Linked DNA regions of Homo sapiens. The protein of the gene in region 4 interacts with the protein of the main gene of each other region in a biochemical or structural test. Each region holds a gene or a part of one and is shown on either strand. Other genes may lie near its edges. The genes, in order: CTSB, CTSL, CTSH and CSTA.

Region 1 (7,535 bases), on a different chromosome or scaffold from region 4:
CATCTGCTGAGACCCTGGCTGCAGACATGGCTTCCCTTCCGAGGGAGTTCATGTGAAAGTCGAGGCCCCCACCGGTATTAGAGGAGCAGCCATCTCTTTTGCTCGCAGTTAAACAAGTGCTCTCGCAGTAGGATAAGCCACAAAGGAGACACTGTAGGAGAATAAAGAGGAATCCTTCTGGAAGCCAATAGAAAAAAAAAAAAAACAATGTGGTCAGCCCTCATAAGGCTAGAACCAGAAACTTAGTTCTCTGAAGCCAAGGCACTGTAATTTCCCTCCCTCTGATGACAGTCACACCACAGAAAGGGAGCTGTCGGGAGGAAGAAGAAGGAGCCCAGAGGCACGGCTCATACCTCCCTGCTGGAAGGAGGGGTAAAGGGCACGAAAGTCCTTTGAGAAGAGAGGAAGGAGAAATAGAAATGAATAAGACAGCACCCTACACCAACCAACTTAGAGTTTAGATAGGAATGGAGACATATTTCTGAAAATACTGGAAACAATCACAGCCAAATAAGAAATCCAGTTCATTTCAACACTGAATAGTTGGGCACTGTAGCGTATTCAAGGATAATTTTTAAAAATTAAAAAGTTAAATCAGGCTGGGCGAGGTGGCTCACACCTGTAATCCTAGCACTTTGAGAGGCGGAGACAGCAGGATCATTTGAGCTCAAGAGCTTGAGATCAGCCTGGGCAACATGGGAAAACACCGTCTCTACAAAAAATACAAAATTAGGCTGGGCCCTGTGGCTCACGCCTGTAATCCCAGCACTTTGGGGGGCCGAGGCAGGTGGATCACGAGGTCAGGAGTTCGAGACCAGCCTGGCCAACATGGTGAAACCCTGTCTCTACTAAAAATACAAAAATTAGGGGAGTGTGGTGGCGGGTGCCTGTAACCCCAGCTACTCAGGAGGCTGAGGCAGAATTGCTTGAACTCGGGAGGCGGAGGTTGCAGTGAGGCGATATCGCACCACTGCACTCCAGCCTGGGCGACAGAGCGAGACTCTGTCTCGGCAAAAAAAAAAAATTCATATTAGCCCCCAGAGAAACCCCACACCCTTTAGCTGTCACCTACCTAACCTCCCATGTGGATTTCACGGAATCATACAATACTGAGTCCTTTGGACCTGGCTGATTTTACTTAGTAAACGTTTTCAAGGTTTATCGATGTTGTAGCATGTGTGACTACTTCATTCCTTTTTACGACTGAATAAAACTCCATTTGGTGGATTTATGACAGTTTGTTTATTCGTGCAATGGTTTTTAATGGATGGACATTTGAGTTGTTTTCACCTTTTGGTTACTGTAAATAATGCTGCTATAAACATCTGGTGTAAGTTTATACATACGTTATTAACTTTTGTTTTAGAGTTGGGGTCTCACTATGTTCCCCAGGCTGGTCTTGAACTCCTAGGCTTAAGTAATCCACCCACCTCTGCCTCCCAAAGTGCTGGGATTACAGGCGTGAGCCCACTGTGCCCGGCGGATTTTTGTGAGGACGTATGTTTTCACCTCTTTCAGGTGTTAACTTAGGCCTCTTTTACGGATGTTCAACAAGCAAACAGCTTTTACACACGTGAGTCAAGGCCTCTCTGTAAGTTCTGAGAGCTGTTCCCCAGGCCCTGAACCCTGACCCCCAAATCTAGCAGGTTAAGCCAAAATTCTCCTCAACTTCAAGGCCTACTTCATTCATTATGCATCCACTCAACTCACATTTCTCTATCCTCTGCTATGGGCCAGACACCCTGCAATGAGCTGGGATGAAGCAGGGGAACACCGCAGGTAAAAATGCTTGCCTGGGTGGGGCTTAAGATCCAGTGAGGGCAGGAAGGAACATATACAAGTAAATATGCTGTATGTTCCTTTCTCCATGAAGCTTTCCTGGATGTTCCAGGAAGGGACGAATTCTACTCTGGTAGTAATATATTTCTTTTCTTGTCTTTTGAGGAGTCTTGCCCATGTTGGAGTGCAATGGCGTGATCTCGGCTCACTACAACCTCTGACTCCCTGGTTCAAGGGATCCTCCTGCCTCAGCGCTCGAGTAGCTGGGATTACAGGCCCGCAATGCCACACCCAGCTAATTTTTGTATTTTTAGTAGAGACGGGGTTTCACCATGTTGGCCAGGCTGGTCTTGAACTTCCAACGTCGTGATCCGCCTGCCTTGGCCTCCCAAAGTGCTGGGATTACAGGCGTGAGCCACTGCGCCTGGCCTATTTCTTTTTTTCTTTTCTTTTCTTTTGAGATGGAATCTTGCCCGGGTTGGAGTGCAATGGCGTGATTTTGGCTCACCGCAACCTCCACCTCCCGGGCTCAAGCGATTCTCCTGCCTCAGCCTCTCAAGTAGCTGGGATTACAGGCGCGTGAACCACCACGCCCAGCTAATTTTTGTATTTTTAGTAGAGACTGGGTTTCACCATTTGGGCCAGGCTGGTCTGGAACTCCCGACCTCAGGTGATCTGCCTGCCTCAGCCTCCCAAAGTGCTAGGATTACAGTGGTGAACCACCGCGCCTAGCCTGTTTCTTTTGTTTCAAAAGTGATTTTTACCTCTCAAAAGTGATTTCTATAATGACACTGATGGAAAATTCCATCAAATAGCCATAACGCATGTCAAGCACTCTGCTCTGCATACCTTCTGTCACACTCTAAGGATGAGAGAGGGGAGAGTTATCCTGGTTCTGGCTGTGTCCTCCCCATTTTGGCCATCTTATGAGCTCCTTATAGAGGTCTGAAATGATTTGGAGTCCAGAGTCCATGGCTGTCAGGATATGACTAGGGTGAGCAGGCAGTTGGGACCACCTTGACCTCCAGCCTCCTGGTCCTCAGTTCCTCGGGTATCCCACTCTGCTGGGGGCTTAGTGACCATGTTTGGGCTCCAGAGATTATTTTTTCCTTCCACTCCTATCCTTAGTTTGTTACTAACCAGGCGGGAGTACAGGCATGTCTCTGAAGACAGGCTCAGGGCTGTGTGACAGCTGACGACCAGGCTGCAGGGAACCAGGTCCCATGCAGTCCTACTGCCTTTTTTTTTTTTTTTTTTTTTTTTTTTGAGGCGGAGTCTCGCTTTTCGCCCAGGCTGGAGTGCAGTGGCACGATCTCAGCTCACGGGTTCACGCCATTCTCCTGCCTCCGCCTCCCGAGTAGCTGGGACTACAGGCGCCCGCCACCACGCCCGGCTAATTTTTTGTATTTTTACTAGAGACGGGGTTTCACCGTGTTAGCCAGGATAATCTTGATCTCCTGACCTCGTGATCCGCCCGCCTCGGCCTCCCAAAGTGCTGGGATTACAGGCGTGAGCCACTGCACCCGGCTACTGCCTTCTTACTGTCGCCACAGCCTGGATAAAATACGATTCTTCTGAGCCTTTTTTTTTTTTTTAATACAGAGTTTCACTCTTGTTGCCTAGGCTGGAGTGCAATAGTGCGATCTCTGGTCACCGCAACCTCCGCCTCCCGGGTTCAAGCGATTCTCCTGCTTCAGTCTCCCGAGTAGCTGGGATTACTGACACGCGCCACCACGCCCGGCTAGTTTTGTATTTTTAGTAGAGACGGGGTTTCTCCATGTTGGTCAGGATGGTCTCGAACTCCCGACCTCAGGTGACTCACCGGCCTCGGCCTCCCAAAATGCTGGGATTACAGGCGTGAGCCACCGAACCCAGCCCCTCTGAGCCTCTTGAATACAACTGGGGTCATGCCTGCTTTGCAGGTTTGTCTTAAGGATTAAAGCTGTTTGGGGAGTGTCTGGAGGAGGGTGAGTCTTGAGCCAACCCCTGCATCTCCCTTCCAGGGCCTCCCGGTAATAAACCCCAAGTAAATGTGCACTTTGTCCGTCCTCTCGGAGCAGGTCTCCGGGTACTCCTGTGCCAAACCGATTTCCGCCCCCAAGGTCCTTCTCCTCTTAGAAATCCTGACGCAGCTCCTAGGTTCCTTCGCAGTGACAGCCACTCTTTTCTATTTGTACGTAGCTGTAGTGTTTTGTGGGTACGTTCTCTGAACAACAAAGTGGCCCTTCTAAAGGCTGTTCTGTGGGGTCCACAGCCTCGCCACCCCCAGCCTCTGCAGCGGCTTCTGAATGAATGAAATAAGCGACGGCGCCCTCTCCACCACCCCACCCCCGCCAACTCGGCAGGCAGGGATCCCAGGCGCGGGTTCTGGCGGAGGCGGTCCCGCGAGGCGGGGGGACTTTTCTAGGCGGGGTGGGGGCCTTGGGACCACCTTTAGGGGCTTTTTCCCCATCCCCTGGCCCCAATTCGCAGCGTTTCGCCACCCAGGGCCCGCAGGGCTCCAAGCCCTTCTTCCCCAGCCCGCGCGCTCAGGCCCCCGCCCGCCCCCGGCGGTGGCCCCGGACCCCGAGCGGAAGGGGGCGGGGGGTGTGCGGGGCCGGGAAGCGGGGAGCGCGGGCGGCGGAAGGTGGCGGGAGGGGGTGGGGGCTGGGAAGCACCGTGCGCGGGCGGCGGGAGGGCCCGGGCGGGGCTGCGCGGTGGTCACGTGGGGCGGGGCCGGGAGGGTACTTAGGGCCGGGGCTGGCCCAGGCTACGGCGGCTGCAGGGCTCCGGCAACCGCTCCGGCAACGCCAACCGCTCCGCTGCGCGCAGGCTGGGCTGCAGGCTCTCGGCTGCAGCGCTGGGTGAGTGCTGGGGACCCGGGGCCACCGCAGCGTAAGTGACCTTGGCGGGGACGGTGCTACCCGGCCGCCGAGACGGGTTCCTCTGCGCCCTCAGTCGGGCCCAGGCGCGGCCCCGCGGCGTCCCTGGGGGCCGGCGGGGAGCCGGGACCCTCGGGACTGTCCCTGACGGGCGGGCTGGGGTGGGAGTCCGCGCGCTCCGAAGCGTCGGCGAGAAAAGCAGAAAACAGCTCCGCCCGCCAGCCCTCTGCCCTCCGCTCCCCTCCCCGGGCTGTGCGCCGGACCCCGGCCCTCGGAGCGGGGACGCGGCCAGGACCGCCGAGGGAGGCGCCTGCGAGGAAGAGCTCGGCCGGGTCCGGAGACTGCTGCCTGGGACCGCGCTCCCAGCGCCTGGGCCTCGGTGTCTCCGGGCCAAACTGCCGACATAATCGCATCTGCCGGCATCTATTTTCGGTTTATTTCCCCCTCATTGCGAAGGATTTGCCTGGCCAACTTTCTGCGCAAGATCCCACGCAATTCCTGGGACCCCAGAAGACAGGTCCTGTTGAAGAACAGGAATCTGGCACTGGGTGGGCTGGGGAGGAAGCCGCACGGTGTTAAATCCATAAACAGGAAGAGAAACCAGACAGCGAAACCAAGAGGCGAATGGGCGATTGGATGCCGGTGGGGAGAAGGCCGGGGGCGCACCCTGCTCCTGGACTCCAGTAAAGGGAGGCCGGGCAGAGTCCCTGGGGCGCCACCTCCCCCTCGGTTAGTAGCCCTGGAGGCCGGGGGGAGTTGGCCTCTGGGGAGCAGTGGGTGCTGGGTGTGGGGCGTTGCAGGCAGGCTGGGGTGGGCGACCCAGGTGGAAGTGAATTGCACTTGGCTTCCTGGTGGGCCTCTGTCACCCCCTTCCCAGGCGCTGAGAAAGCCAGCAGGCTGGCAAAGAAAAGGACCCTAGCGCAGGCCCCACACTCCTCCTCCTAACGGACGAGAGACCCCCCAAACCCACTGGAGAAGTGACGCTGTGGGGTTCAAATGCAGACCTGGCACCTTTTTGTAGCCTGGAAAAACATTCCCACTGCCTGCTGCCGGAGGAGAGGATAGCTGAGATGCACTCTCTTTGAATCCAAACGTTCAGGAACGTAAGGCGAAGAGGCCTAAGAGGGCGTTGGCTGGCTCTGTCTCTCAGGCTGGAGCACAGTGGCGCGATCTCGGCTCACTACAACTTCCGCCTCCCAAATTCAAGCTATTCTCCTGCCTCAGCCTCCCGAGTAGCTGGGATTACAGGTGCCCGCCACCACGCCCAGCTAATTTTTGTATTTTTAGTAGAGATGGGGTTTCACCATGTTGACCAGGCAGATCTTGACCTCCTGACCTCAGGTGATCCGCCTGTCTCGGCCTCCCGGTGAGTCACGGTGCCTGGCCAAGAACTGTTTCTTGTTGGCTCTGGTGCTGGTGACTTAGAACCCGCCAGCTCCTGGAGAAAGGGGCTGGGCCGCCCACCCTGTGTAGCTTTCCCAAAGACAGAGTCAAACGTCTCCTGGAGAACAGAGGCTTCCCTTCGTCTTTGGTCATTTGTCCTCTAGCTGGGGGTACCCCCTGGTGGAAAGGCACAGGTCCCTTGCTCCCCAGGTGGCAACGCAGGCCAGACACGGCCCTGGCACAGCTCTCCTGGGTGTTGGCTCAGGACAGCCCTGTTTCCAACTGGTTAGGCGGTGAGGGGTGGTGGCCCTTTGGTTCCAGGTTGAAACTGCCCATGTGGTGCTGATTTAGCAGACTGGGGAGGCTCTTTTTGTAGGCAGGTTCTTTTCTTTCCCCAGCTGCTGGACCTGGGAGTTGGAAGAGAAGTTGCACCCATTTTAGGGGTAACAGATATTTTCTGTTGCTCTTGGTTGGATTGGGAAGTGAATTGAAGGGAGGTCACGTTTCAGGGGTGCCTTGGGATGTCTGTCAGTGATTTTCTTTTCTTTCTTAATTTCTTTTTCTTTCTTTTTTTTTTTTTTTTGAGACACACTCCCTCTATCGCTCAGGCTGGAGTGCAGTGGTGCGATCTCGGTTCACTGCCACCTCCGCCTCTCATGTTGAAGCAATTCTCCTGTCTCAGCCTCCCTCCCAAGTAGCTGGGATTGCCAGTGCCCATCACCACACCTGGCTTTTTTTTTTTTTTTTGTATTTTTAGTAGAGACGGGCTTTCACCATGTTAGCCAGGCTGGTTTTCGAACTCCTGATCTCAAGTGATCCGCCTCAGCCTCCCAAAGTGGTAGGATTACAGGCATGAGCCACCGCGCGGTGGAGGGGTAATTTTCTTAAATCTGGTAATGAGTTGTGGTTGTGTAGAGTAACATACCGTCCTTTCGAGATATGGACTGAAACATTGAGAGGGAGGAGTTACAGGTATGTCGATTCTTCTTTTCTCTCTCTCCTTTTTTTTTTTGAGGTGGAGTCTGACTCTCTCACCCAGGCTGGAGTGCAGTGGCAAGATCTCAGCTCACTGCAACTCCGCTTCCTGTGTTCAAGCCATTCTCCTGCCTCAGTCTCTCAACTAGCTGCGATTACAGGCATGTGCCTCCACACTCAGCTAATTTTTTTATTTTTAGTAGAGATTTTTTGTCTCTCCTAAAAAAATCCAATGTAAAAAAATCCCAATGTGGGGGTTTTGCCACGTTGGCCAGGCTGGTCTCGAACTCCTGACCTCGTGATCCGCCCACCTCGGCCTCCCAAAGCGCTGGGATTACAGGTATGAGCCACTGCGCCCAGTCTGCTGCCTCTTTTCAATGGTCTGGCCTAAGGAAATTATTGGAAACATGTGCGGTTGAGTGATATTTACTGGGCACTTCCACATGGTCCATGTAAAGGGAGATGGTTGGGGTGACAGGCAGTTGAGTCTAGGGGAGGCATGTACAGATGTGCTGTGCCTCTGGGATATCAGGGTGG
Region 2 (7,587 bases), on a different chromosome or scaffold from region 4:
TGGAGAGTGCATTTGCACAACCACCTCCCACACTCAAGCAATCGCCCTACCTCAGCATAGCTGGGACCACAGACGCACACCACCACAGCCGGCTAATTTTCGTTGTATTTTTGATAGAGTCAAGGTTTCACCTTGTTGCCCAGGCTGGTCTCAAACTCCTGAGCTTAAGCCATCTGCCTGGCTCAGCCTCCTAAAGGGCTGGGATTACAGGCGTGAGCCACCCCACCCAGCCCTAATATATGAATTCCGAAAAAGGTATCTGTTATCTCTTAAAGTGTCCACCTTCCAAAAGCTGAGCTGGAATGATGACAAGGAGCTCCACTTACTGTTGCCTCATATGGATAGGATTCCTCAGAGTCCAGGCCTCCATTATCCTGAACATACTGGAAAGCATAATCCATTAGGCCACCATTGCAGCCTTCATTGCCTTGAGGCCCAGAGCAGTCTACCAGATTCTGCTCACTCAGTGAGATAAGCCTCCCAGTTTTCCGGAACATCTGTCCTTCAAGAGCACCAGTAGCACTAAAAGCCCAACAAGAACCACACTGACCCTGAAAAGGGAATTAAAAAAAGCTGTCATCCACAAAAAAAAAATAATAAGACTTTGACAACAGCTCACACATCTGAATACTGTTAAAAAGTGAACTGTACATCACTTTAAAGTCTACCAAAACAAAGATGTCAATCACTTCTTGGCTTTCCTGGGAAGATGGGAGGTCTGAACCTGACACTGTCTCACCTGATTCTTCACAGGAGTCACGTAGCCTTTCTCTCTCCAATCCACAGATCTGGGGGCCTCATAAAACAGAGGTTCCTGGAACACTTTCCCCTTCCTGGGCTTACGGTTTTGAAAGCCATTCATCACCTGCCTGAATTCTTCACTGGTCTTCAAGGAAAAGGAAATAAAATGTTGAAAAGCAAGAGATTACCTTAGTAAAGAACCGAAGAGAGGAAGCACAGAGCTCGGCAGTCCACAGCACACTTACCATGTCTCCAAAGGCGTTCATGGCCATTGTGAAGCTGTGTTTCCCTTCCCTGTATTCCTGATTGTGCAGTTCAATCATCTTCATGTTCTTCTCCCACACTGCTCTCCTCCATCCTTCTTCATTCTAGAGGCAAACATGTAACTGATGCTCTTTACTTCTACCTAAAACCCAACTCATCCTCACCAAGTGAATCTGCAGACAGAGATGGAAGAGAAACCATGGCAAGGGAAGGCTTGACACCTCTGGGGATGCTGTTCTCCAAACTGAGACACAACAAGGATGAATGTCCACATTGTGCTCATAATCCACGCCATTAGGTTATTACATTAGGCTATTGGTAAAAGCTGGCCTCTAGAAGCTACTCTCTGACTAAAACTTCTCAACAGCCAGGACTATTCTTTCTGGGGAAGTTTCACTAACCATGCCGTATAATCTGTTGTGCATCGCCTTCCACTTGGTCCACTGTGCCTCTAAACTGTGATCAAATGTTAGAGTAGCTGAGGCAATTCCCAGGCAAAAGGCAGCAAGGATGAGTGTAGGATTCATGTTTTAAAACCTAGGAAGGGAACAAAAATGAGGATCTGATTAGACCAATCCTAAAAAGCCATCTTACTGCCCCCTGAAAAATTAGGGCCACCATGGTAGAATAAAAATATTTAAATTATTCTCCCAAGCATTTACCCAAGGACTGTGGAAGAGGCCAAGGATGTGCCTGGAGAAAAACAGGGCACGTGGAGGTACTGGATGGACTCACCAAAATGAAAAGCAGCCTGTCCAGAGCTGTAGGAGCTGAAACAGTTTATGCGATGACAATTTAGGTTATGAGAACGGTATGAAACTACCTTGTGTGTGAGAAGCTTAAGGCAACAACTAGGAAACCGGGAAACGGTTGATCCAGGTTTTGTACCAATCGCAAAAAATCCAGGTTTCGTGCCCAGGCAAAACCTCACTAATGATAAGGTGGGATTCCCAAGTAGGGACAAAGAGATCCCCAAGAGTTAGGAGGCCTTCACACATCTTCCTGACTAACAAACACCAAAAGCTGAGATAAGTTTTCCAATCTCTCCTATTTATTTATTTATTTATTTATTTATTTATTTATTTATTTTTTGAGATGGAGTCTTGCTCTGTGGCCCAGGCTGGAGTTCAACGGCGCGATATCGGCTCACAGCAACCTCTGCCTCCCGGGTTCAAGCCATTCTTCCTCAGCCTCTTGAATAGCTGGAACTACAGGCGTGCGCCGCCTCGCCCGTCTAATTTTGTATTTTCAGTAGAGACGGGGTTTCACCATGTTGGCCAGGCTGGTCTCGAACTACTGACCTCAGGTGATCCGCCCACCTCAGCCTCCCAAAGTGCTGGGATTACAGGAGTGAGCCACCGCGCCGCCCCAACCTCTCCTTAAATGAAACCTTTCTGAAATGCTTTCCCAGGAAAAACTGGGAAGGAGAGCACGCACTGCTCCCTCCTTCATTCACTTGGGCCTGTGCTGCCGACACCCCAAACTGCTCCCCTAAATCAGGGACGGGGTCATATGGCCGCACGCGGGAAGCCAGCGCCCTGCAGCCAGCTTCCAGGGCTCCAGGCGTGGCAGGGCCGGGGACATGACGCCTGCGCCACACACTGGCTGTAGCGGTCAGAGGATGTTTGCGGTGACGCCAGCAGGAGTACCGCTGTCTGGCGTGCGGGGACTGAGCTTCCCTGTCTGGCCGGGCCAGGCCCTGAGTCGGCGCGGCGCGGCCTGGCTGCGGTACCTGTGTCCACCCGGCTCGGAGGCTGGCCTGCCCGCTCAACCAGTCACGCGCCTCCGCGGGGTCCTCAACTGCCCTCCCCGGCTTCCCCACCTCAAGGCCAGCAGAGTTCGGGGTAGACGCTCTCGTTGCCAGGGCTGGTGCACACCTACTCGACCGCGTCCTCTCTTCCAGTCCCTGTCCGGCCACAGCTGGGCCTGGCCGGCGGCGCTTTCCTGCTGCGGTCGTAGCTGCGCAGGCGCACTCCACGGATGCCGCTCAAGGTTGCGGAGGTCGCGGTTCTGGCCCAGCTTCGCCTGACTCTGCTTCTAAAACCTCGGGTCTGGGTTCGGCCGGCACCGCCCCGCCGCCTGGCTGCGCTGCGATTGGCTGTGCCGGCAGCTGGGCGGGGACTCTGGGTGCTCTGATCCCTGGCGCGGTTCGTGGCTTGTTTACTGACTGTCCCAGAGCTGGGCGTGCCTGCCTCAGTGGACCTGGAGGAAGCAGAGCTGGTGCCCCGGGGCGGCGCAGAGTAGGGTCGGGCGTCTCCCTGGAGCGCTCGAGTCAACTAAGTACACGACTTACTGCACTGGGCGAGTGGCTCCTGAAAAGACGTTTACCGCAAGCCCTGTGTGGACTGTTTCAGCCTAACCTTGCTATTCCTTAGTCCTGGAATTTTTGGTCCGCAGAGCCGAGAGTCAAGTGTACTCTAGTCCAGTGGCTCCTGTTTAGTCCACAGCAAACGTGGGGCCGGGTGGACGAACGCAGAGCCCGCGGGCAGAAGCCTTATCTCCCACTTAAGGGTGGGTGCAGCTGGGCTTTAGAAGAATCTGGTAAGGAAAGGCATCCCCAAAACACGAGATGCTATCGTCAAGACCAGACCCTAGGAGGGAGGAGACTGGCTGCGTCTCCAGAGAGCGCGGGCGTTTTGTCAAGCATCCTTTCCAGACTCCTCCATTCAGGGATTCTTCCTTCTCCCACGTCTTACCCAAAACCAACAGAAATGAGTTATTTACAGAAACATTTGGTTGACAGGAGAAAAGCAGTTGAGAACATTAGAAGCTGCTTTTATTCGCCCACTCTCTAGGCTATGGATTATATCTTCCTTGGTAACCAAGTCGTTCTCTTGAGATTTAAGAAATTTAATGACATTTAATGTCAGGATTTAAGATACAGAGAATGGAGAAATGTTGTAGATAGAGGAAAAATATGTATCTTAATCTGTATAATGTAGATATTAATTTATGTAATTAAGGATTTAAGGAACAAAACCCACAAACATTCTAAACTTTTGTCATTTCATTTTTTATTACATAAAAACATTCATTGTAGAAAATACCTTTCGGGGAAAAAAATAATTACCTCTGCCTTTACCCCATAACCTTTTCGTATGCATATTTTGACTTTGTTAAAAATGAACAAAGTCCATTGATTTCTATTGAAGATTAAACTGATAACTCTTTTAGAAGCACAATCACCTATAGTTTTTTAAGTGGTAAAATATACCTCACATAGCAAGTACCATTTTAACCAACTTTGAGTTCAGTAGCATTAAGTACCTTCACATTGTGTAACCATTACTACTGTTTATTCCCAGAGCTTGTTTATCTTCCTAAACTGAAACTGTATCCATTGAATAATAGTTCCCCATTCCCCCTCTCCTAGCTCAGGTATCTACCATTATATTTCCTGTCTGCAGGAATTTGTTTACTATTTTGGAGATTATTCCTCTTTTTTTTTTTTTGAGACGGAGTCTGGCTCTGTTGTTCAGGCTGGAGTGCAGTGGCGCAATCGCAGCTCACTGCAATGTCTGCCTCCTGGGTTCAAGTGATTCCTCTGCCTCAGCCTCCAGAGGAGCTGGGACTACAGGCGCGCACCACCACGCCTGGCTAATTTTTGTATTTTTAGTAGAGATGGGGTTTCACCATATTGACCAGACTGGTCTTGAACTCCTGACCTCGTGATTCGCCTGCCTTGGCCTCCCAGAGTGCTGGAATTACAGGTGTGAGCCACCGTGCCCGGCCGATTATTCCTCTTTTTATGCATTGCTTCTCTGGAGAACCAGTCACAATGTGTAGAATACAATCTAACTGTGATATCTGTCCTAGTCTCTTTTCTGTTGCTAATAACAGAATACCTGGAACTGTGTAATTTATGAGAACAACATTTATTTCTTACAGTTTTCGAGGCTGGGAAGTCTGAGGTCCAGGAAGTGTATCTTGTGAGGGCCTTCTTGCTTGTGGGGATTCTTTGCAGAGGCCCAAGGTGGTGTAGGGCATCACAGGGCGAGAGGGCTGAGTGTCCTAGCTCAGGTCTCTTCCTCTTCTTTTAAAGCCATCAGTCCTGCCTGGGCGCAGTGGCCCACACCTGTAATCCCAGCACTTTGGGAGGCCGAGGCAGTCAGATCACTTGAGGTCAGGAGTTTGAGACCAGCTTGGCCAACAGGGTGAAATCCTGTCTCTACTAAAATACAAAAATTAGCCAGGCGTGGTGGTGCACACCTGTAATCCCAGGTACTTGGGAGGCTGAGGCGGGAGAATCACTTGAACCTGGGAGGTGGAGGTTGCAATGAGCCGAGCCGAGATCACGCCACTGCACTCCAACCTGGGTGACAGAGCGAGACTCCATCTCAAAAAAAAAAAAAAAAAAAAAAAAAGCCATCAGTCCCATTCCCAAGATAACCTGTTGGTCTATGAACCCATTATTCCATGAATAGATTAATGTATTCATTAGGGAAGAGCTCATATGTCCTAATCACCTCTTAAAGGCCCCACATTTTAATGCTGCCACATTGGAGATAAGTTCCAACAAGAGTTTTGGAGGGGGCAAACAAGGAAACCATAGCAGTATTTAAATTTATTATTTTATGAAATAAAAACAATATTTCTGTGGTGTTAGGTAACTGGAGTACCTACGTCTGCCTTGGTTCTAACTTTGCAGATTTCAGGATCACAAGAAGTTCATTGGAACAGCTGAATGTTTCTACCGGGGGCTTAGAGCTCACTTGGTCCTTCATGAGTTCCTTACTGGGGAGTGTGAGAGAAACTGCTCAGATGGCCTCCCCTTCCCCAAATTTGAAAGAGAAAGAGAGAGAGTTGTGAGTGAGTGGCTTTGCTCTCCAGCACTTGCTTAGTGAAGAGCCTCAGAATCTGGACTGTGGCCTCCCAGTTCTGAGGAACCCCATTCGCCACCAGGAGGGGTGGCATGTTCACCCCGTTATTCAGGAAGGAATTGGAAAACAAACAATCGAGGGTGTGAGGTCAAGAGCTAGAAAATCGCAAGCCTCTGGCACCTGAGCCAGGGCAGATGCTGGGAGCACCTGCAGGATACTCCCATATTCTGCCACCTTGGTACTTATCAGCCTCTGAGAACTGAAGCCGGACCCTTTCTTTGCTTGAGCAGAAGATCAGACCAAAGAGCTCATTGACTCAAGGAGCATCATGGCAACTGGGCTGTACCCGGAGGGGAAGAATCCAGGGTCTGATCCACAACCAAGGCCTGAAGAAGTGGGGCCTGTACTTGACCTACCCAGGGTGAGTCATGACCCAAGTGCTGGGGCTCTAGCCATGGGTGGTCCTTCCAACCATTTCCAGCTTCCTCCTGCAGAGGGGCTGGTGTTTTTCTTCATTTTCCATAACCTCCTTGGGAGCACAGGCTTTGGTTTCTGCCTTCCCTGGATCAGGTCTCCCACAATGCAGTTGCTCTAACAAAAACTATTAGCAACAACATAGTACCACAGAAGCCAGCTCCTTGCTAGCAGTGATTGCTGATGATATTGTCTTCTAGAGACCATTCTAATGACTAGACAGCCTCGGTGCAGGAGGAGCTGTTGTCGGTCATGAGGAGCATTTCCTTGTCTATGTAGAGGAACTGAAACCGATGTGGCCAGCAAAATTTACCCAAAGCAATCACTGGGATACTCATCACACCCTCATGGCCCATTGTATCACTTTTGTTCCCTATATATGTGGTCCCATTTCCTCAGGACCAGTACTCCCTTATGTGGGGAGCAGGACTGATGCCTTGAGTTACTTATAGTGACTCGTTAGTTGGGGGATTTGCTAGTATTTTCATCAAACTTGAATCTAGTGAAACATTTGATTGAACTGGCTTCCAAATTGAAAATAAACCAACACCACTCAGGAAACCTATTTACAGCGAGAAGTCAGGAGTGGGAATGCATCTTGCACTGTCACCTTGATTAACAATAGCTCTGACCTGTGGGAGGACGGTCCTCTCTCCTGTAACAAACATAGGGTAGTGATGGGCCAGGTCCTGCTGCTCCTACATTCTCATCACTTAGATAAGCACAGGCAGGTGACTGCAAGCCTTCCAGCCTCCACCAGCATCCTCCAGTTCTCCCCTGACCGCTCTCATTCATATTCCGCACTGATTCAGAGGTCCAGTCCTGAGTGGCAAAAAGAAACATGCGTGAGCCTTTCTAGAAATCAATCAATCATTCATGGATTATAGTGAATTCTTCCCTACTAAACACATCTCCAGAAATTCAGGCGTAGTAACTCCCTTCCTGAATGTCTTTCCAAGGCCCTAAGTGACATTGATGTTCCATAGACAATGTCTTACACGGCAAAGTGCTTCTGGGGGTGGGAACCTGCTGACCTTCCCTGGAATCCTGACTGCAGGTTCTGTTTAGAACATGGGGTCTCATTTTGAGAAGCTCTTGGTATTTATCATTCACGGGAAGTTCACAGGTTCCAGAAAACACTGGACAGCATTCAGGGGAAAGAAAAGGGGCAGAGATGGAGACACCTGGTCAGTTTGGCCAGAGCATCCTGGGGGAAATGCACTGAGGGACAGAGGGGCAAATGCACATGGGTGGTGGGGAGAGGAGCAACGCAGATAGCAAAGACACT
Region 3 (6,837 bases), on a different chromosome or scaffold from region 4:
TCTGACCATGGATAGGCCTGTTCTTTGCCCTTGGCCTCTCAGCCCCCATATGCACCAGACCTTCAGACCAATGAGGCACCTGCCAGTTTGGGTGTTTCATCTGGTGTATTGGTTTCTTCCTATTGTTGTGTTCTAATTACCACAAACTTAGAGGCTTATAATAGCACAAATGTACTCTACGGAAGTTCTGTAAGTCAGAAGTCCATGTGGACTTGGTTGGTTCCCTGGAGGGTCTGGGGGAGAATCTGCTTCCAAGCTCATTCAGAGGGCTGGCAGAATGCAGTTCCATGCTGGTGAAGGGCTGAGGTCCTGGTTTCCTTGCTGGCTGTCACTACGGCCAGCTTCTATAGGTTGCCTGTGTACCTTGGCTTTGGCCCTCTTCAAAGCCAGCAGTGGCAGATAGAGTCCTTCTCATGATTCAGCGCTCTCTGACCCCACCTGCCTCATCCCCCCTCTGACTTCTCCAACCTCTCCTTCTGCCCCCTCTCTCCGACTCTTCTCCTATGCTCTTCTGCTTCTAAAGGCCCACATGATTCCACAGGGCCCCTCGGATAACCCAGGATAATCCTATTTAAAGTCAGCTGATTCAAACGTTGATTCCATCCGCAAAGTCCTCCATGGCAGTCGCTAGATTGTGCTTGAGTGAATAGGAAGCTTTCGAGTTCTGCCTACCAGCCCTGTCCAGCCAAGACTGTGCCAGCAGCTGCAGTCCTCAGCCTCATTTCTGTAGAGGTGTAGAGGACTGGAACCACGGAGAAGCCCTCCAGCCAGCTGGAGCCAGAGGGTCAGACAAACTCACCATGAAAAGTGTGTGCAGGTAGCAAAGGATAAAAAGCACACAACGGAGCATCAGAAAAGCCCATGCATGGGGGGAGTCTCTATTCTGGTGCCATGCTCAGGGCCAGGTATTTTACCTATAATTATATTTAAACTGCATGACCGTATCTAACTACCCTGGAAAGCAGGGATACTTGCTCCATTTTACAGATGAGGAAACTGAGGCTGGTGGGGGGGAGGCGGGGGGGAACCATTTGCTTAGGTCACACAGTGAATCTGTAGTAGGGCTAGAACCAAACATTGGTCTCCAATTAACCAGGTCAGTGCCCTCCACATCTCAGCACCCAGGGGCCCTGGCCTGCTGGAACGATCCACAAAGGAGGGTCACCAGGGACCTAGCGCAGGAGGCAGCTCTGGGGCCTGAGGTCTAGCATGCAGAGCTTTCAATTCTGACATCCTCCAAGTGGCTGGGATGGGCAGAGGGGTGAAGCATTCCAGGTACACATGAAGGGCAGGACATCTGCCTAGAAGGACACCTTTATCCCAAGGCCAGCGACTTCTGTTCCAAATAGTAACCGAGCAGGGTCTTTTCTGAGACATATGCCTCAAAGCACAGAGAGACTGGTCACACCCAGAGAGGGGCATCCAGACAGAGATGGAGTCACAACCTAAGGAAGATCTGCTTTATCTGAAAAAAGGTGCCTGCTGGAGCTCACCCTGGTTCCATGGAGATTCCATGTCCACATGCCACACTGGCCACAGGAGAGGAGAGAGACTGTGGGGGAGGCTCTTTAAATGCAGATTTCTGAGCCCTACCCAGACCCAGTAGGTCATATCCCAGGAAAGAAGTCCAGGAATCTGCTTCCCCAGGTGCCTGAGACACAGAGTCTGGGCTAGAACATCAGGGGATGAAACACCAGTCGGAGGGAGGCCACGAGAGAGCTCAGATCTGGCTCTACTCACAGGTTGGAAAGATGCATTTTTAAAAAGAGAGGGAAGGGCACAGAGGCTCACATCTCTAATCCTAGCACTCTGGGAGGCTGAGGCAGGAGGATCACTTGAGCCCAGGAGTTTGAGACCCCATCTCTACTAAAAATACAAAAAAACTAGCTGGGCGTGATGGTACGAGCCTGTGGTCCCAGCTACTCAAAAGGCTGATGTGGGAGGATCTCCTGAGCCTGGGAGGCCAAGGCTGCAGTGAACTGTGATGATGCCACTGAACTCCAACCTGGGTGGCAAGAGAGCCAGGCCCTGTCTCAAAATAAATAAATAAAAATTTAAAAATGAAGAGACAGAGAAAGAGCAAGCCCAGAGCAGAGAGCACTGCAGTAGGTCAAGGCTGGGTTCAGACACTCTCTGCGCACAGACTGGGAAAGTTACCATCTACTCTTGTGGCCTCAGTTTCCTCATCTGTAAAATGGGGGGTCAACAACATGCCACTTTGCAAGGTGATGATGTAAGTGAAGAACAGGGCATCACTGGGCATTTGAGGCTACGGCACAGGCTGGTCTGAATCACCCTCTCCTCACCCAAAGCAGTGACAGCACCGGCCTCCTCAGCCTGGAACGCACGTTCTTCTGTCTGTCTCACACCCAGACCCTTACATACCATCTTCTTTAGCTTTGCAAACTACAGAGAATGGCCCTACAGCTCTTAATGTAGCTTCCTCAGCAGAAAGACTAAAATGTCTGTTGAGGGGGCAAAACAATTCACAAGGAGGTCGTCTAGCTTCTTCAGTTGTAAGTCCACTCCAAGCAAAAGGGAAGCCAGGGAAATGTGGTTAACCAGGGCAGGGAGACGTGGGGAGTGTGGGGGAAAGTCTGAGGTGGAGACACACAGGGACATGGGGGGTATGAGGTGGGGACAGGCAGGGAGATGGGGGTGCAAGGTGGAGACACGCAGGGACATGAGGGGGTGTGAGGTGGGGACAGGCAGGAAGATGGGAGGTGCAAGGCGGGGACAGGCAGGGACATAGGGGTGTGAGGTGGGGAAATGCAGGAAGATGGGGGGATGTGAGGTGGGGACTGGCAGGGATATGGGGGTGTGAGGTGGGGACAGGCAGAGACATGGGGGTGTGAGGTGGGGACAGGCAGGGACATAGGGGTATGGTGGGGATAGGCAGGGAGATGGGGGGTGCGAGGTGGGGACAGGAAGGGACATAAGGCTGTGAGGTGGAGACAGGCAGGGACATGGGGGGTGTGAGGTGGGGACAGGCAGGGAGATGGGGGGTGCGAGGTGGGGACAAGCAGGGACATGGGGAGTGCGAGGTGGGGACAGGCAGGGACGTGGGGCGTGCGAGGTGGGGACAGGCAGGGACATAAGGGTGTGAGGTGGAGACAGGCAGGGACATGGGGAGTCTGAGGTGGGGACAGGCAGGGAGATGGGGGGTGTGAGTTGGGGACAGGCAGGGAGATGGGGGGGTGCGAGGTGGGGATAAGCAGGGACATGGGGGTGCGAGGTGGGGACAGGCAGGGACATGGGGGTGGGAGGTGGGGACAGGCAGGGACATAGGGGGTGGGAGGTGGGCACATTCAGGGAGATGGGGGTGTGAGGTGGAGACAGGCAGGGACATAGGGGGAGCGAGGTGGGGACAGGCAGGGAGATGGAGGGTGCAAGGTGAAGACAGGCAGGGACATGGTGTGAGGTGGGGACAGGAAGGGACATGAGGGGTGCGAGTTGGGGATAGGCAGGGAGATGGGGGGGTGCGAGGTGGGGACACGCAGGGAGATGGGGGACGTGGGGATGGCGACAGGCTGGGAGAGGGAGAGGCCAGGCTGAGACCTCCCCGCGCGGTGCCAGCCAGTCCAGGCAGATCCAGGACTCAGCCAGGCCTGATACCCAGATAAGCCCTTCCTCCCAGAGGAGATAAGGGAGCGACGCGGCCGGCCGACAGGTGAACTAGAGCTGGCGAGTTAGTCGGCGCCGCCCCCTCCCGCGAGCCCGGCCTCGGGGGAGTACCGCCCACCCCGCCCCGCGCTCGCTCCGCCCCGCGCTCGCTCCGCCCCTTCGCGCTCCCGCCGCTCCTCCACGCTCGTGCCGCTCCCCCCCCGCGCTCCCAGTTGACGCTCTGGGCCGCCACCTCCGCGGACCCTGAGCGCAAGAGCCAAGCCGCCAGCGCTGCGATGTGGGCCACGCTGCCGCTGCTCTGCGCCGGGGCCTGGCTCCTGGGAGTCCCCGTCTGCGGTGCCGCCGAACTGTGCGTGAACTCCTTAGGTACGCAGAGGGCGCGCCGCCCGAGAGGGTGCTAGCAGGCCCTAGAGTGGACGCTGGGAGAACTTGGCCAGGGGCGCACTGGGCTCCGGAGGAACGGGGCAGAGCTTTCCCCGGTGAGAGGCCAGGAACTCTGCGTGCTGGCACGGGGAGGGGTAAACTGCATTATAGGCGGGGGTTCTCGGAGGGTGGGCGGCTTGTAGGACCAGAGGAGCAGATGGGCTGAGTGTCCAGGGTCCCACCTAGCCAGGTGGCTCTCCAGCCTAGAATACCAAAGGAGCCCGCAGCTCCTTCCGCCTTCCTCAACTGGGGACACAGAGTGTCACACAGAGGACTCTGATCTGTCCCTGCCAGAGGTGAGCAAGGACGTCCCAGCCTTCTCTAGCAGCTTCCCCCGGGACTTGGCACACAGGGGATCCCCGTAGTGTCTTGGGAGTCCCATCTGTAGAGTAGGTTGGACGGGCTGTTTGGAACAGTGAATCCCTGTGCAACGGCACCAGGGAAAGCACTCAGACCAACAGCGCTTTTAACAGCACCCCAGGGCCCATGGCGTCAGGTGGAGCCCCAGGACTCCTCTTGTTGGCCAGATTGGCTGCGACTGGTCCAGCTTCGTGCTGCCCTTGCATCCTGTCTACTGCCCGGGCTCAGGCACCTCCCCTGGCTGAAGGCAAGGAGCCTGCTCTTCCCTACTGCCTCCCTCCTTTCCTACTGTCCCTGGTCCCAGCCTCAGCCCACAGGCTCTGAACTTAAAGACCACCTGCCCCCTTCACCGAGAAAAGTAGCCAAGAAACAACCCAAGGAGCCAAGAACCTAGGGAGGGGGGGTGCCCTGAGCTCTGGAGGAACGGGACAGGGCTTTCCCCCAGCTAGAGGCTCAGGGGATGGGACAGAGATCACTGAGGCTGAATCTGGGCCAGAGGGTTGCCTCATTCCTTCCCACCTATTTATTTAAAAAGCTCCCCAGCCTTGCAAACCTCAGTGGGCGCCCAGCTCCAGGTCAGTTCCCGCCTAAGGAAAACCTAGCTGCCGCAAGCGAGGGCTGCCTGGAGAAGGCTGGCGCTGAGAGGCTGTCTGAATTCCAGAGCAGGGCTTGGCAAACTTTTTCTGTGAAAGACCAGACGGTAAATAACTTAGGCTTTATGGTGGTCTCTGTAGCAACTACTAACTCTGCCATGGTAGTGTGATAGCAACCATAGATTGTATGTAAGTGAGTCAGTGTAACTGGGTTCTAATAAATGATTTTTATGGCCACTGAAATTTCAGTTTCAAGGGATTTTTGGGTGCTACGAAATATGTTTCTTCTAACCATTTAAAATTGTAAGAAACCGTTTGTAGCCCAGGAGCTGTACTAAAACAGGAGTCAGGGACCGGCTGCGGTGGCTCACACCTGTAATCTCAGCAATTTGGGAGACCGAGGCAGTCGGATCACTTTAGGTCAGGAGTTCGAGAGCAGCCTGGCCAACATGGTGAAACCCTGTCTCTACTAAAAATACAAAAATTAGCTGGGTGTGGTAGCCAGGTGCCTGTAATCCCAGGTACTCAGGAGGCTGGGGCAGGAGAATCGCTTGAAACTGAGAGGTGGCGATCACTCCAGCCTGGGTGACAGAGTAAGACTCCATCTAAAACAAACAAACAAACAAACAGGGGAATACTGTACTTTCCTGAAACCTGCTGTAAATCCAGGCAAGGTATTATGGCACTTTTAAAGTCCTGACTAGATTGGAATGGATCTATTTTAGGGTAAGGCACGGTTCACCAGCAGATTATTCTGGCCCCAGAATAATCTCTCCAGAGGCAAACTGGTAGTCAATTGTCCTAAACTCAAACCCTGCCTCCAACTCTTGTCCTGAGTTGAGGTCTGTCTTCCTCTAAAGCCCTCAGCTGCAGCAGGGCCCTTAATCAAGATCTGGAATCCCCTGAAACCCTAAAGGGAGCCATGTTGAGGAAATGTGCATTTTCCCCAGGGAAAACGGCCATAGATTGGTCTCTGGAACAGGTTCGAGACCCAAAAACGGAGATCTAAATGCTGTGTGGTAGTGATCTTCACACTGGAGGTATGGATCCTTGGGGAAACAGGAAGATATTTCAAGTGATGCCGGCAGAGAGTGTTCTGGAAATCCATTTACAGACCTTTTATTTCCAAGTGTCCTCTTTGCTAAAACTGGGAGAGAGCCCCTGAAGGCAAGGGGGAACCTCTTTCCTCTCATTCAATCTGAACCTGAACCCATGGGTATAAAAACAATAGGGACAGCAAACAAAAAGACAAAACGGTAATAAATCGTTCATATCTGGCATTCTCAATTCCTCAAGGAAACTGAATTGAAGAGGAGAGGACTTCATGGGGATATCAACTGATGAGGTCTTAAAAATAATGTTGAGTGAGGCCAGGCGTGGGGGCTCACGCCTGTGATCCCAGCACTTTGGTAGGCCAAGGTGGGTGGATCACCTGAGGTCAGAAGTTTCAGACCAGATTGGCTAACATGGTGAAACCCCATCTCTACTAAAAATATAAAAATTAGCCGGGCGTGGTGGTGGGCACCTGTAATCCCAGCTACTTGGGAGGCTGAGATAGAATTGCTTGAACCAGGGAGGTGGAGGTTGCAGTGAGCTGATATCGTGCCACTGCCCTCCAGCCTGGGCAACAGAGCCAGCCTCCTTCTCAAAAAAAAAAAAAAAAAAGAAGGAAAGAAAGGGAGGGAGGGAGGGCTGAGTGATAGAGCACCATGGGATTGGATGCACAGAAAGGAGTGCGAAGAATTAAGTGGCATTGCTCTTAAAAACTGCCTCCATTCCCAGCTGCTTATTTGAGCAGGGTTTCCCAGCCCTTTGACCTATAAGAAACAAAAATAAG
Region 4 (7,035 bases):
GCGTCGCAGCAGGGGTCTCGCCATGGAGTATGGGCTGCTCTCCTGCCATCCCGCTGGCTGCACTGTCTCTCCCCTCCTCAACATGGAACAGAAACTCTGCTTTTCTCAAGCCAGGAAGCCAGACAACAATGCGGGTACAGGGATTCAGCTTCCATGCACTATGATGGCCAGAGCATGTTGAGTGTTGAGGGTTTAGTAGAAGAGAGGGAGTTAGTTCGTGTTTTCCTAATATACCAGTCTACACATTGCCTCCAGTTTTATCTTCCTAAAGCACAAATGGCTTCTCTATAGCTCTGACTTTTCAGTGACCTCCATTACCTAACAACTAAAGTGTAAGATCGTTCACCTGTTTTTCATGACCTGTCCTCAGTCAACCCTGCCCCCCACTTTCCCTCTTCACCACAAGGATAGCCAGGAGGAATAACTATGTCCTCCCTTGAACACACACTTCAAATAGGGCCTTCACAGTCATTTTTAAAGCACTGTATTGGTGCAGTAGGAGTTAAGACTCTAATGAAAAACATTAGAGGAAGAAGTATAACAGCGAGACCAAGAGACACACAAAGAAGGCATTCAAAAGGCAGTGCTTTTATATTCTAGCTTTTTGGGGGTGTAACTTACATATGATAAAGTCCACCCACTTTTTTATTTTTTTATTTTTTTGGTGTGGAAACAAGACCACCCACTTTAAGTGCACAATCTGATGAAGTTTGGTAATCATATACTGTTGTGTAGCCACTATCGCAATCCATGTATAGAACAATTCCATCTCCCTAAGACGTTTTCTTGCGCCCCTTTACAGTGCATTCCATCCCTCACCTCAGCCTCAAGCAACCTCTGATCTCCTTTTTGTCACTATAATTTTGCCTCTTCTAAGGTCTCATCTAAATGGAATAATATAGTCCATGGCCTCCTGTGTTTGCTTTCTTTCACTTCTTCTTACATTGTCTTGTTTTTGAGGTTTACCTATGTGATTTAATGTATTACTATTTTGTTCCTTTTTATTGTTAAGTAGTATTCTATACTGTGACTCTACCACAACTATTCTTACCATTCACCAGTTGATGGACAAGGAGTTTTCTTCGGTTTTGAATCATTATGAATAATGCAGCTGTTAGCATTCATATGCCAGTCTTTGTGCAGACATATTTCATTTCTCCTGGGGAAATAGCTAGCAGTAGGAACGGTGGGTTGCATGGTAAGTGTATGCATCCACACATCTACTCCTGGCAATGGGTAGAAGCGCAATTAGCTGGGGAAGTTCAGAGCCCAGGCCTGTAACTAAAGCTGGAGACAAGCCCAAATTCTCAGTATCTTTATGGTGCAAGAGCTCTAAGCCAACAGTAAAGTAAGAACTGGGCTGGGGCTTGTGTACCTCCTAGGACCTGGTAGCGGAAACCACCCCATAGGAAAGCCCCACAAACCAGCCACAAAAGAGAAAACTCACATAAAAGATAACTCCTGTGGCAGATGAGCTCACAGACAAGAAATATGAAATATATGAGGATATCTAGCTCCAGAAACACAGTCTGCATAATTCATACCAAAAAATCCAAAAAGCAATCTTAAAGGTACCTTTAAAATAAATGTGTATTTAATCAACTGTTTGTTTAACTTAAGTAAACAATTAATACAGAGATATGAATTGTGCTTTTCTCTTTTGCACTTCCTTGTGTGCGACTCTTTCCCTGTCAATCAGAGGCACACATACTACTCTTGAGAAGAACTAGGATTGTTATAGGAGGAATACAAAACACAAAAGCAATATTTGCTTTGGGGAAGTTTTTACTTCTAAAATAAATTATTGAGAATCAATAGGAAAAAGCTGAAAGTACAGGGCATAGACCCTAGAAAGAGAAGGGTAGACTTGTGGTTTACCATATCTCTTACCACTGGGGAGATTCAATAAGGATGGCCTGGACTAGGATGTCAGCAGACAACTAAAAATGGGCTTCAGGCTTGGAAAAACGTCAGGGGCCTTAATATGAAAGGACTTGACTTGGGGAGGTCACATGAAGATGAGTAGAACCAGTGGCCTATGAAAGCTGAGCCAAAGTCTTCAGATGACCTGTGGCCTCTTGAGGGAGCACCTTGTCATCCACATTCGCTGTTCTTCTTAATCCACAGGGTAAAGGCATTCTATGGAGAGATACTTGTGTAGCACCCCTTAGTTTAGCCTGTAAGACACTCACTTAGCTCCAAGAGTTTGCCAAGCACCCACCAAACATCATTATAAAGAAACAAGCACCTCCCTGTATTGTGATATAGAACAGTCTCCAAAATATATTGTTAGGAATAAAACAAAAAGTATAATAATTTATGTAGGATACCATTTTTATAAAAGAAAACCTATATAGATGAATATGTATCTATGTGTGTGTGTGCGTGTGTGTGTAGCCAATTTTTTTTTTTTTTTTTTTTTTGAGACACAGTATTGCTCTGTCACCAGGCTGGAGTGCAGTGGCGCGATCTTGGCTCACTGCAACCTCTGCCTCCCAGGTTCAAGCGATTGTCCTGCCTCAGCCTCCTGAGCAGCTGGGACTACAGGCGCACGCAACCACGCCCAGCTAATTTTTGTATTTTTAGTAGAGATGGGGTTTCACCATGTTGGCCAGGATGGTCTCAATCTCTTGACCTTGTGATCCACCCACCTCGGCTTCCCAAAGTGCTGGGATCACAGGCGTGAGTCACCGTGCCCAGCCTCCAATTATTTTTATATTTGTATGTGTAAAGAATGTCTCTGAAGGATACAGAAGAAGTTGGTGCCAATAATTGTCTCTGGAGAGTAGAAGGGTGTCTGAGGAATTAAGTGAGTGAATAATTCCTTATATTGTAAAGCCTGGTTCCTTCCAAACATTTTTATCCTGTGTATGTATTATATATTCCCAAAATTGAATAAAATAATATACATAAATATTCACACAATGTGGCCATTTTGCTTCTAGATAAGTTGTCTGCAGAAGCCCTCACTCATGTAAAAAGGAGAAAAAATGCAACGTTGTTTGTAAGAATGAAACACCAGAAACAACGAAAATCGTCATCAATAGAGAAATGAGTATGTAAAATATGAACTAGAATATAGCAATTAGATAGGTAGACTAAATAGATAGGTCTAGCATAAAATAGCATATCACAGTTAAAGGAAATGAACAGGATTGATCTATCTGTGGATTGATCTATGTGTATATCAACATAGAAAGGCTCAAAAACATGTTGAATAGAAAAAGGAACATAACATAGAATATATTTAGCATACAATTTAAGTGAAATTTTAAAGACACACCAAGTAAGACATATTTTAATTTTAAAGACACACATATAAAAATGGCCTGGAAGGATATTAATTCACCATGTACTTTGCCTTCTGGAAGGCAAGGTTGCGTGGGGTGTGGGGCTTCCTCCATATCTGTAATATTTTATTTCCTAAAAATAACTACAAAAATAAAAAACAGCAAGCAAATATGACAAAAGGGTTAAAAGTTTTAATTCTGAGTGATAGAAATATAGATGTTTGTTATTTTATTCTTTGTGTTTTACCGTATGTTAAACATTTCCAGATATTTAAATAAGAGTAAAGAAGACACATCCAGCCAAGGTCCTCCAGATAGATCCTTTTGCTTTCTTTCTAAAGTCAAGTAAATTCTAAACTAACCTTGACATTATTAGTAAGTTTTGCTTTAAAAAAAATAAAATTTTGTGTTAGAAGTTTTAAAACATTTGGAAATTCTAGTTGCGGCTTCAGATTTCATAATTCAGATGATGCAACAGGATGGAACCATTGTCAAAGAGAATGCAGGGACGTTTGATGCTTGTTAGGACATGACTCCTGTACTTGCCCATTTGTTCATCCTCCAACCCCTCTTTCTTCCAAATTCCATGTAGCATATTCTCTCCAGGAAGCAAGAAGACTTGCCTGGCGGCATACTCATTTTCCCCATGCCTCTTTGCTGTTTGTGGAAAATAAAGCATTCTATAGGCGGAGCTAGTGAACGCCTCTTTTAAAACACGAGTCTCCACACTTCCCTGTTCACTTTGGTTCCAGCATCCTGTCCAGCAAAGAAGCAATCAGCCAAAATGATACCTGGAGGCTTATCTGAGGCCAAACCCGCCACTCCAGAAATCCAGGAGATTGTTGATAAGGTGAGTTGATGCCATTCAGGAAAAAGTCTGAGCCAAAATCTTGATTCATAAGTTGTCCCTGTGGAAAGGCTGTGGTTGAACATGAAAACCAGAAGTTTAGGATGTTTGTGGCTTTGTTCAGGTTTCTTTACAACTAAGATGAAATAAGAGTTTTTCAGATGAAGCCTCAAATAATCCCCAAACTGTGAGTGTGACCTTGAGCAAATCACATTTCTTCTCTGAGCTTCATTTTCTCCATGGGTAAAAGAATTTGTATTGTATCTTCTCTAAAGCTCTTACAAGATATGATTCTAGAATTACTAATTCAGTTTCTGATGAAACTTTTCTAATCTCACCAAGTGAAGCCAACGTGTAATTGAAGTCTAAGGTTATTAACAATTTGATGAAGTAGTCTTGGAATGCACTGCAGGGAAAATTTTTTTAAATAGATTGAATGAAGAATAATATTGTAAAGGCAATCTACTTACAAACTTCATACACTTTTGCCCAAATAGATAGTGTTTTAGTCTTTTCATAGTTAAAAGGTAATTCAACTAATAGAACAGAGGTGACAGTCTATAGTGACTCCGAAATGTCATAGGGCACCAAATTATATATGGAAAAATAGAACTCAATGTTGTTAGCAGATTGATGTGTTTTTCACTTCTTCTTTTTTGTTTTGTTTTGTTTCATTTTTAAGAGATGGGGTCTCACTCTGTCACCCAGGCTGGAGTGCAATGGTCTGATCACGGCTCACTGTAGCCTCAACTTTTTGAGTTCAAGCGATCCTCCCCACTCAGCCTCCTGAGTAGCTGGGATTACAGACATATGCCACCACGCCTGGCTGATTTGGGGGGTTTTGTTTTGTTTTGTTTTTAGAGATGGCATTTCATTCTGTTGCTAGACTGGTCTTGAATTCCTGGGCTCAAGCCATCCACTCACCTAGGCTTCCCAAAGTATTGGGATTACAGGCGTGAGCCACCACACCCATCCCTGATATATTTTTCTTTGTGTGATTAGCTATCATCTAGCTATGTAGTAAACATTTATTTGCATATTTTATGAAAGGAAAACATGTACAAATTACTACTTTAGGTTTTTAGTTTGTTGCCTTATTTTCTTATATTATTCCTTCTTATTTTTTCTCTCTGAAACATCATTCTATGACAGCTTGGAAAACAAGATCAGCTTTTTGTGTGATTATAAGAGTTGGGATCCTGTATATTCTGGGAACTAGAAAGCTCTCTAAGGGGCCAGATGCCTAGAATCCCATCACTCATTCTTGGGGACTAATTATTTCTCTTTCAAGAGTTCTTTTTTTAAATAAATATCTTGGAGCTTTTTTCCTGGGAGATGATATTAAGTCAGTAATGTCTTCATGTGAATCCCCAGATCAGATCAATGTTCTCAAACTTGAATGTGCACATGAATCACCTGCACGTCTTGATAAACCTTAGATTCTGATTCAGGGGACCTGGGGTAGGTCTGAGATTCTGCATTTCTACCAGACTCCCAAGTGCTGCTGCTGCTGCCACCCATGGCCTTGCTTGCTGGCAGGACCAGAGATATATGGCATCCTACAAGGCCAGTGGGAGATGGGGCTTTAAAAGTCAGGGTGCAGGCTGGGCTCAGTGGCTCATGCCTGTAATCCCAGCACTTTGGGAGGCTGAGGCAGGTGGATCACAAGGTCAGCAGTTCGAGACCAGCCTGGCCAACATGGTGAAACCCCATCTCTACTAAAAATACAAAAATTAGCCGAGCATGGTGGTGGGTGCCTGTAATCCCAACTACTCAGGAGGCTGAGGCAGGAGAATTACTTGAGCCCAGGATGCAGAAGGTGCAGTGAGCCAAGATAGTGCCTGCACCCCAGTCTGGGCAACAGAGCAAGACTCTGTCTCAAAAAAAAAAAGGGCCAGGCGCAGTGGCTCACACCTGTAATCCCAGCACTTTGGGAGGCCGAGGCGGGTGGATCACGAGGTCAGGAGATCAAGACCATCCTGGCTAACACAGTGAAACCCCGTCTCTACTAAAAAATACAAAAATCAGCTTGGCGTGGTGGCGGGCGCCTGTAGTCCCAGCTACTCGGGAGGCTGAGGCAGGAGAATGGCGTGAACCCGGGAGGTGGAGTTTGCAGTGAGCCGAGATTGCACCACTGCACTCCAGCCTGGGCAACAGAGTGAGACTCCGTCTCAAAAAAAAAAAAAAAAAAAAAAAAGTCAGGGTGCCAAAATAAAATTTGTCTATTTCATTTGAAAAATGAAGGTAACACCTCTTGCCCTACCTATGTCAGAGCTGTAAGGACTAAGTGAGATAATGTGCATAAAAATGACTTGAAAATGAAAAAGAAATGTGCATAGGTGAGGTATCACAATTGTTTACTTCAAATTTGTGGCTGAAAGCATCCCTGACCCTAAAAAAATCCCCCTGAGACTCTCTAAGGAACAGAGCTGTAGGAACATAGGGAAAAATAAATTTGAAATAGAGACAGTACAGAAAATTTTAATGATTTTTAAAAAAATCTATCACTCGATTAGCAAGAATTATTAATTTTTAAAATAAGAAGCTACCAGAAGGCCTTGCATTGCTAATAACACCTATCTGTGAGCCCCATCTTAAATTATAAAATTAATTTGAAAGTGTGTGTGTGGCAGGGAGGAAGCTGCTTCCCTTTGGCTCCAATGTCATCAGAGAGGTAGAATGAGAGATAAGTATTAAGAACAGCTACCTCACCCCAGAAAGGGGTTTTGCAGTTTTTAAAAGCTTGACCTCCATTCGAGCTCTGATTTCATCTTCATAACCCCTGGAGCAGGCAGGGAAGATATTGTGTCTATCTTGCAGATGATGAAACCAAGATTCAAAGAGATTAAGAGTCACTTAATTAAACTGGGCATGGTGGCTCAAGCCTGTAATCCCAGC

What was found.
Region 1: the proteins of CSTA (region 4) and CTSB form a complex in vitro, tested with the Homo sapiens proteins (3 studies listed by BioGRID and IntAct, with this or other methods).
Region 2: the proteins of CSTA (region 4) and CTSL form a complex in vitro, tested with the Homo sapiens proteins (2 studies listed by BioGRID).
Region 3: the proteins of CSTA (region 4) and CTSH are reported together in a solved structure, tested with the Homo sapiens proteins (one study listed by BioGRID).

What each region holds. Positions count from the first base shown.
Region 1 is NC_000008.11:11,865,088-11,872,622, reverse strand, and holds the start of CTSB (cathepsin B isoform 1 preproprotein), read left to right. Parts: upstream 1-4,535; 5' UTR 4,536-4,622; exon of another isoform or gene 4,623-5,369; intron 5,370-7,535. UniProt on the Homo sapiens protein: Thiol protease which is believed to participate in intracellular degradation and turnover of proteins. Cleaves matrix extracellular phosphoglycoprotein MEPE. Involved in the solubilization of cross-linked TG/thyroglobulin in the thyroid follicle lumen.
Region 2 is NC_000009.12:87,721,549-87,729,135, reverse strand, and holds the start of CTSL (procathepsin L isoform 1 preproprotein), read right to left. Parts: upstream 3,018-7,587; 5' UTR 2,738-3,017; intron 1,776-2,737; exon of another isoform or gene 1,668-1,775; intron 1,543-1,667; 5' UTR 1,533-1,542; coding exon 1,407-1,532; intron 1,110-1,406; coding exon 987-1,109; intron 887-986; coding exon 740-886; intron 552-739; coding exon 327-551; intron 1-326. UniProt on the Homo sapiens protein: Thiol protease important for the overall degradation of proteins in lysosomes. Plays a critical for normal cellular functions such as general protein turnover, antigen processing and bone remodeling.
Region 3 is NC_000015.10:78,942,044-78,948,880, reverse strand, and holds the start of CTSH (pro-cathepsin H isoform a preproprotein), read left to right. Parts: upstream 1-3,834; 5' UTR 3,835-3,899; coding exon 3,900-3,990; exon of another isoform or gene 3,991-4,103; intron 4,104-6,837. UniProt on the Homo sapiens protein: Important for the overall degradation of proteins in lysosomes.
Region 4 is NC_000003.12:122,321,219-122,328,253, forward strand, and holds the start of CSTA (cystatin-A), read left to right. Parts: upstream 1-4,029; 5' UTR 4,030-4,074; coding exon 4,075-4,140; intron 4,141-7,035. UniProt on the Homo sapiens protein: This is an intracellular thiol proteinase inhibitor. Has an important role in desmosome-mediated cell-cell adhesion in the lower levels of the epidermis.